Linked DNA regions of Homo sapiens. Changing the gene in region 1 together with any one later gene gives a genetic interaction. Each region holds a gene or a part of one and is shown in the gene's direction. Other genes may lie near its edges.

Evidence for each region.
Region 2: changes in POLD1 (region 1) and COPS4 together harm fitness more than expected from each alone (negative genetic interaction), as found in Homo sapiens cells (one large-scale study listed by BioGRID).

What each region holds. Positions count from the first base shown.
Region 1 is NC_000019.10:50,390,774-50,394,593, forward strand, and holds part of POLD1 (DNA polymerase delta catalytic subunit), read left to right. Parts: intron 1-3,820. UniProt on the Homo sapiens protein: As the catalytic component of the trimeric (Pol-delta3 complex) and tetrameric DNA polymerase delta complexes (Pol-delta4 complex), plays a crucial role in high fidelity genome replication, including in lagging strand synthesis, and repair.
Region 2 is NC_000004.12:83,041,565-83,045,384, forward strand, and holds part of COPS4 (COP9 signalosome complex subunit 4), read left to right. Parts: intron 1-3,820. UniProt on the Homo sapiens protein: Component of the COP9 signalosome complex (CSN), a complex involved in various cellular and developmental processes.

The sequences.
Region 1 (3,820 bases):
GACTCTTAAGGAGCATGCTGCCTTCAAGCATCTGTTTAACAAAGCACATCTTGCACCGCCCTTAATCCATTTAACCCTGAGTGGACACAGCACATGTTTCAGAGAGCACGGGGTTGGGGGTAAGGCCGTAGATTAACAGCATCCCAAGGCAGAATTTTTCTTAGTACAGAACAAAATGGAGTCTCCTATGTCTACTTCTTTCTACACAGACACAGCAACAATCTGATCTCTCTTTCCTTTCCCATTTCCCCCTTTTCTATTCGACAAAACCGCCATCGTCATCATGGCCCGTTCTCAATGAGCTGCTGGGTACACCTCCCAGACGGGGTGGCGGCCAGGCAGAGGCGCTCCTCACATCCCAGACGGGGCGTCGGGGCAGAGGCGCTCCCCACATCTCAGACGATGAGCAGCCGGGCAGAGACGCTCCTCACTTCCTAGACGGGATGGCGGCTGGGAAGAGGCGCTCCTCACTTCCCAGACTGGGCGGCCAGGCAGAGATGCTCCTCACTTCCCAGACGGGGTGGCGGCCGGGCAGAGGCTGCAATCTCGGCACTTTGGGAGGCCAAGGCAGGCGGCTGGGAGGTGGAGGTTGTAGCGAGCCGAGATCACGCCACTGCACTCCAGCCTGGGCACCATTGAGCACTGAGTGAGCGAGACTCCGTCTGCAATCCCGGCACCTCGGGAGGCCCAGGCGGGCAGATCACTCGCGGTCAGGAGCTGGAGACCAGCCCGGCCAACACGGCGAAACCCCGTCTCCACCAAAAAATACAAAAACCAGTCAGGCATGGCGGTGCGTGCCTGCAATCCCAGGCACTCAGCAGGCTGAGGCAGGAGAATCAGGCAGGGAGGTTGCCGTGAGCCGAGATGGCGGCAGCACAGTCCAGCCTCAGCTCGGCATCAGAGGGAGACTGAGAGGGGGGAGGGGGAGGGGGAGGGAGAGGGAGAGGTCTTTTTTTTTCCCACTCCCCCGCTCTTGTTGCCCGGGCTGGAGTGCAATGGCGCAATCTTGGCTCACTGCAACCTCCGCCTCCCAGGTTCAAGCGATTCTCCTGCCTCAGCCTCCCAAGTAGCTGGGATTATAGGCGCCCGCCACCATGACAAGCTAATTTTTGTATTTTTTTTAGTATAGACGGGGTTTTCACCACGTTGGCCAGGCTGGTCTTAATCTCCTGACCTCAGGTGATCGGCCTGCCTCAGCCTCCCAAAGTGCTAGGATTACAGGCGTGAGCCACTGCACCTGGCCCATCATTTTACTTTTTTAATCCAAGTTCTAACCTAGGATAACACACATTGTCATGGCAACTTTTTCATTTTTTAAGACATGTCTTGCTCTCTTGCCCAGACTGTATTGCAGTGGTGCAGTCATGGCTCACTGCAGCCTTCACCTCCCAGGTTCAAGTGATCCTCCCACCTCAGTCTCCCAAGTAGCTGGGACTGTAGGTATGCACCACCATGCTTAAGTAATTTTTAATTTTTTGTAGAGATTGACTAATTTTTAATTTTTTGTAGAAATGGAGTCTCACCATGTTGCCTAGGCTAGTTTCTAACTCCTGGCCTCAAGTGATCATCCCACCTCAGCCTCCCAAAGTGTTGGGATTACAGACGTGAGCCTCCTAGCCCAGGCAACTTACTTTTTCATGACATCGACAGTTTTAAAGATTACAGACCAGTGTTGTCACCCCTCACCTTGGATTCGTTTGTTTCTTTTTCTTGTTTTGTTTTGAGACAGAGTCTTGCTCTGTCACCCAGGCTGGAGTGCAGTGGCGTGATCGCAGCTCACTGCAACCTCTGCCTCCCAGGTTCAAGTGATTCTCCTGCCTCAGCCTCCCAAGTAGCTGGTATTACAGGCACCCACCACCACGCCTGGCTAATTTTTGTATTTTAGTAGAGATGGGGTTTCACCATGTTGGTCAGGCTGGTCTGGAACTCTTGACCTCAAGTGATCCACCCTCCTTGGCCTCCCAAAATGCTGGGATTACAGGCGTGAGCCACTGCACCCAGGCTGTTTGTTTCTTAATGACTAGAATCAGGGTAAACGTTTTCTTAGACATTGTTTTTCAACACAAAAGATAAAATTGTGAGTGCACCACTGTGCATCTTGCTTTATCTACTGAACAATGCCTCTTTGAGAACCTTCCCTATCAGTACACAAAGAGCTTCCTCATTCCTTTACACAGTTGCATAGTATTCCATTGAACGGACTTAACATATTTAAATAGCCCCCTGGGGGAGGACAGTTAGGTGGTTTCCAGTCCTTGGGGATTTCAAACGATGCTTCCGGAAATAACCTTATAAATGCAGTTTTTCTTATGTGATAATATATCTACAGTGTACGTCCCTAGATGTGGAATTGAGCCTCCAAACTTTTATGTTTATAATTGAGGTGGCATTTACATGGCGTGCCATGCCCAGGTCTCCAGTGTACAGTCAGCTGTATAGTGTGTTTTATCACCCCAGAAACCCCCTCATACCCTTCCCAGTCTCTCCTACCCTAGGAGCAGCCACTAGTCTGATTTCTAGCGCTGTAGATCACTTTAGTGTATTCTACAACTTTGTCTAAATGGTATTGTACAATTTTTATGGAGGTAAAATTAGCCATTTTAAAGCAAACAATGGCTGGGCGTGGTGGTTCATACCTGTAATCCCAGCACTTTGGGGAGGCCAAGGCAGGCAGATCACTTGAGCCCAGGGGTTTCAGACCAGCCTCAGCAACATGGCAAAACCCGTCTTTACCAAAAAACAATTGGCTAGGCATGGTGGCACGCATCTGTCTTCATAACTACTCAGGAGGCCAAGGTGGGAGGATCACCTGAGCCCGGGAGGTCAAGGCTGCAGTGAGCTGAGATCATGCCACTGCACTCTAGCCTGGGCAACAGAGTGAGATCCTGTCTCAATAAAGAGAGAAAGTAATAATAAAGCAAAGAATTCAGTTGGTACGTTCACAGTGTTGTACAACCATTACCTCTGTCTAGTTTCAAAACATTTCATCACCCCTACAGAAAACCCCATACTCCGTAAGCAGTCACTCCTCATTCCCCCAGTGTGCACTTTGCCTTCTGCACAGCCTGCTTTCAAGATTCATCCGTGTTGCATGTCTGTCAGGAGCTGGCCCCTCTCTAATGCTGAGTGTCTGTTATGAACCTCCCTGAACATTTCTAACATATACTCCATCAGTTCAGAATTTTTCCATGCTTATTTCAGGTCTAAGCTGTTGTACCAAGGAGCCCCCAAAACACAGTGGCCCAAGAAAGATACAAATTGATTTCTCCACATAACGCTTTGGAAGATAGGCAAGTGTGCAGGGTTGGCAGACAGCTTTGCTCTGGAAGGTTGTTGGGGAGCCCAGTGTTGTCCCTGTCCTTGTGGTTGGCTCTCCCACTACATCCATGTTCCAGCCACTGTGACGGGGAAGAGGGTGGGAGGATGTCCCAGTAGCTGCACACCTCATGATCACTCTCATTCCTGGAGGGAGAACTTAGTCACGTGGCCCTCCTGGCAGCGCACACTGGGAAATGTAGCCTTTGGCTGGGCAGCCTGTGGCCACTCCGGACACGCAGGGTTGGAGGGGTGTGTTCTATTGCAAAAAAGCAAAGCAAAGCCGGGCGCGGTGGCTCACACCCATAATCCCAGCACTTTGGGAGGCCGAGGCGGGCGGATCATCTGAGGTCAGGAGTTCCACACCAGCCTGGCCAACATGGTGAAACCCCATCTCTACTAAAAATACAAAAAAAAATTAGCGGGTATGATGGTGGACGCCTGTAATCCCAGCTACTCGGGAGGCTGAGGCAGGAGAATCGCTTGAAGCCAGGAGGCGAAGGTT
Region 2 (3,820 bases), on another chromosome or scaffold:
CAAGTGATTTTCCTGCCTCAGCCTCCCGTGTAGCTGGGACTTACAGTTGTGCACCATCACACTCGGCTAATTTTTGTATTTTTAGTAGAGATGGGGTTTCTCCGTGTTGGCCAGGCTGGTCTTGAACTCCTGGCCTCAAGCGATCGTCTTCCTTGGCCTCCCAAAGTGCTGGGATTGCAGGTGTGAGCCACTTCACCTGGCCTTACTCTCTTTTGAGTTAATATATTACCTCTTCATTTATCATATTGCTTATATTGTTCAGTTTTATCATAACTTTTGTTTTTGTATTATTGTAATTTAATACTTTTTTTTTTTTTTGAGATAGAATTTCGCTCTGTCACCCAGGCTGAAGTGCAGCAGCGGGATCTCAGCTCACTGCAACCTCTGCCTCCCAGGTTCAAGTGATTCTCGTGCCTCAGCCTCCCGAGTAGCTGAGATTACAGGCACGTGCCACCACACCTGGCTAATTTTTGTATTTTTAGTAGAGATGAGGTTTCACCATGTTGGCCAGGCTGGTCTCGAACTCTTGACCTCAAGTGATTGGCCCACCTCAGCCTCCCAAAGTGCTGGGATTACAGGCGTGAGCCACCGCACCTGACCATATTGTAATTTAACACTTGACATATTAACTTTTTATTTTTAATCTTCCCCTTTGTCTTCTCAGCCATATGATCTTCAAATACAAAGGTCATTTAAAAACTTTTTAGTATCATACACAGAATCTCATATAGCATCTTAAAATGCCTAAGGACTCAATTAACACCTTGGGGTGATTTTATATGGCAGTATTAAATTTCTGTTTAAGTTCCTGGTTTAAAACAGGTTTGTTAGTCATTTTATGTTATTCTGAAAAAGTAATCTCTGTTGTTAGATACTAGAATTTACATATTAGAGAAGCAAGGGAGCATGTAATGTAGCCACAGTGCTGTACCTCACTTTTTTTAATTAATTAATTTTTTTTTTTTTTTGAGACAAGGTCTTGCTCTGTCCAGGCACACGCCACCACAGCTGGCTAATTTTTGTAATTTTTTTTTATTTTTAAAATTTTTATTTTTGAGATGAGATATCACTCTGTTGCCCAGGTTGGAGTTGCAGTGGCAAGATCTCAGCTCACTGCAACCTCCACCTCCTGGGCTCAGGCAATCCTCCCCCCTCAGCCTCCCAAGTAGCTGGCACCACAGGTGTGTGCCACAATGCCTGGCTAATTTTTTTATATTTTTGGTAGAGATGAGGTTTTACTATGTTGCTCAGACTGGTCTCGAACTCCTGAGATCAAGCCATCTGACTGCCTTGGCCTCCCAAAGTGCTGGGATTACAGGCATGAGCCACCACGCCCAACCAATTTTTGTATTTTTTTTTTTTTTTTGTAGAGATGAGGTTTCACCACATTGCCCAGGCTGGTCTTGAACTCCTGGACTCAAGTGATCTACTTTCTTTGGCCTCCCAAAGTGGTAGGATTACAGGCATGAGCCACTGCGACTGGCCCTCAATTTATTCATTTATAAAATTGGGAGTTTATGTACACAATTTCTAAGGCCTCTATAAGTTATATAATTTGATGAGTATAAAACTTTGATCACTTTTTAGGTTGGTTTATTTTCATTTTTTCTTCCTATTCCCAATACAGATTAGTTGATTGATTATGAAACTATGTGTTAAAACTTAGGTTAGGCCAGGCACAGTGGCTCAAGCCTGTAATCCCAGCACTTGGGGAGGCTGAGTTGGGAGGATTGCTTGAGTCCAGAAGTTGGAGACCAGTTTGGGCAATGTAGTGAGACCCCATCTCTACAAAAAGAAAAGAACAGTTAACCAGGGGTCGTGGCACATGCCTGTAGTCCTAGCTACTCAGGAGGCAGAAGCAGGAGGATTGTTTGAGCCCAGGAATTGGAGGTTACAGTGAGCTATGATCATGTCACTGCACTCTAGCCTGGGCGACAGAGTGAGACCCTGTCTCAAAAAAAAAAAAAAAAAAAAAAAAAAAACCATAACAACCACAAAACAACTTAGGTTAATTAGCAAATTTATATAAGTGAGACACTATTACCTTTGAATATAATGTTGTTAGTATAAAATAATCTAAGAGGATATAAAAGTAAGAGATCTTAGCAATAACCCTTGATTTAATTAAATATGAAAAAAATAAAAAATAACAAACCATTGAATGTATAACTTATCTGAAAGCATGCCCAGGGCCATAAAGTAATTTATCTTTTAAGGACCCTCAAACTTAGCAATATTGAAAATATAATTTTCTAAAAACTTAATATTTCCTTGCTTTCTTAGAATAATTTATTTCTTCTTTTGGAATTTGCTATCTTTTCTATCCGTATATCTGCTTTCTTAAAGTCACTTTGATTCATTGTGGTTTTGAGAAATCAGATAACCAAGGTTGTGAGAATTTTGTATGAGTTGAGAGTCAGTAATGCTGAGTGGTAGCTTGAGGGTGTGCCCTACAAAATAAAAGTCATAAATCTGAATGAGTTCAGGTTCTATTTTTGTATATTTATTTCGTAACTCTATTCTGGATGACTTTCCGAATAATTGCAATGCTATGAGGTTTGTAAAATGTATTTAGTGCTTTTAAAAAATATTACAATTGGCTGGGCGCGGTGGCTCACGCCTGTAATCCCAGCACTGTGGGAGCCCGAGGTGGGCGGATCACCTGAGGTCAGGAGTTCAAGACCAGCCTGGCCAACATGCGGAAACCCCATCTCTACCAAAAATACAAAAATTAGCCGCACTTGGTGGTGCATGCCTGTAGTCCTCGCTACTCTGGAGGCTGAGGCAGGAGAATTGCTTGAACCTGGGAGGCGGAGGTTGCAGTGAGCCGAGATTGCGCCAGTGCACTCCAGCCTGGGTGACAGAGCAAGACTCCATCTCAAAAAAAAAAAAAAAAAAATGATTAAGACAAAAGAGATAAAGATTAGTATAGGCCGGGCACGGTGGCTAACGCCTGTAATCCCAGCACTTTGGGAGGCTGAGGTGGGCGGATCATGAGGTCGGGAGTTTGAGACCAGCCTGACCACATGGTGAAACCCCATCTTTACTAAAAATACAAAAATTAGCCAGGCGTGGTGGCGCATGCCTGTAATCCCAGCTACTCAGGAGGCTGAGGCAGGAGAATCGCTTGAACCTGGGAGGTGGAGGTTGCAGTGAGCCAAGATTGCGCCACTGCACTCCAGCCTGGGTGACAGAGCGAGACTCCGTCTTCAAAAACAACAACAACAACAACAACAAAAGAATAGTATAACACTCATATACTAACCACTCGTTAAGAAATAAAACATTACTAATACCGTTGAATATTTGAGTGCTTATGATGTGCCAAGAATTGAGATAATTGTCTACATAGCAGAGAACAAAACACAAGAATTCCTGTCCTCGTGGAGCTTGTGTGGTCACAGATATTAGGTAGAATAGTTATTAGATCTGAATGCAAATAAAGAATAAATAGGTACTGTCTGACAGCATAAATGGTATTCTATCAGTGCATTTGGCTTGGCGAAGTTTATTTTGTACAGACTAAGACATTCAGTCTTTAATGTTTGGTTTCGTTGCCTGGTCAACATTATCCTATTGCTGGTGACCCTACATACATTACGTCTGTAAGAGGAAAAGATTCAGGTCACCTCAAATAATGTTTTTGTGTGTCTATGTATTGCACAGTTGAAGGAAATATAGCTTATCTTTTAAGGCATTTGAAAGGAAATTGACTTTGTAGTTTAAATTCAAAAATAAAACCTTCAAGAAAAAGTGACACCTTAGATTCAGTAACAGAATTATAGATTCATTCTTTCTTGTGATGAGCTTGAAAACTTAA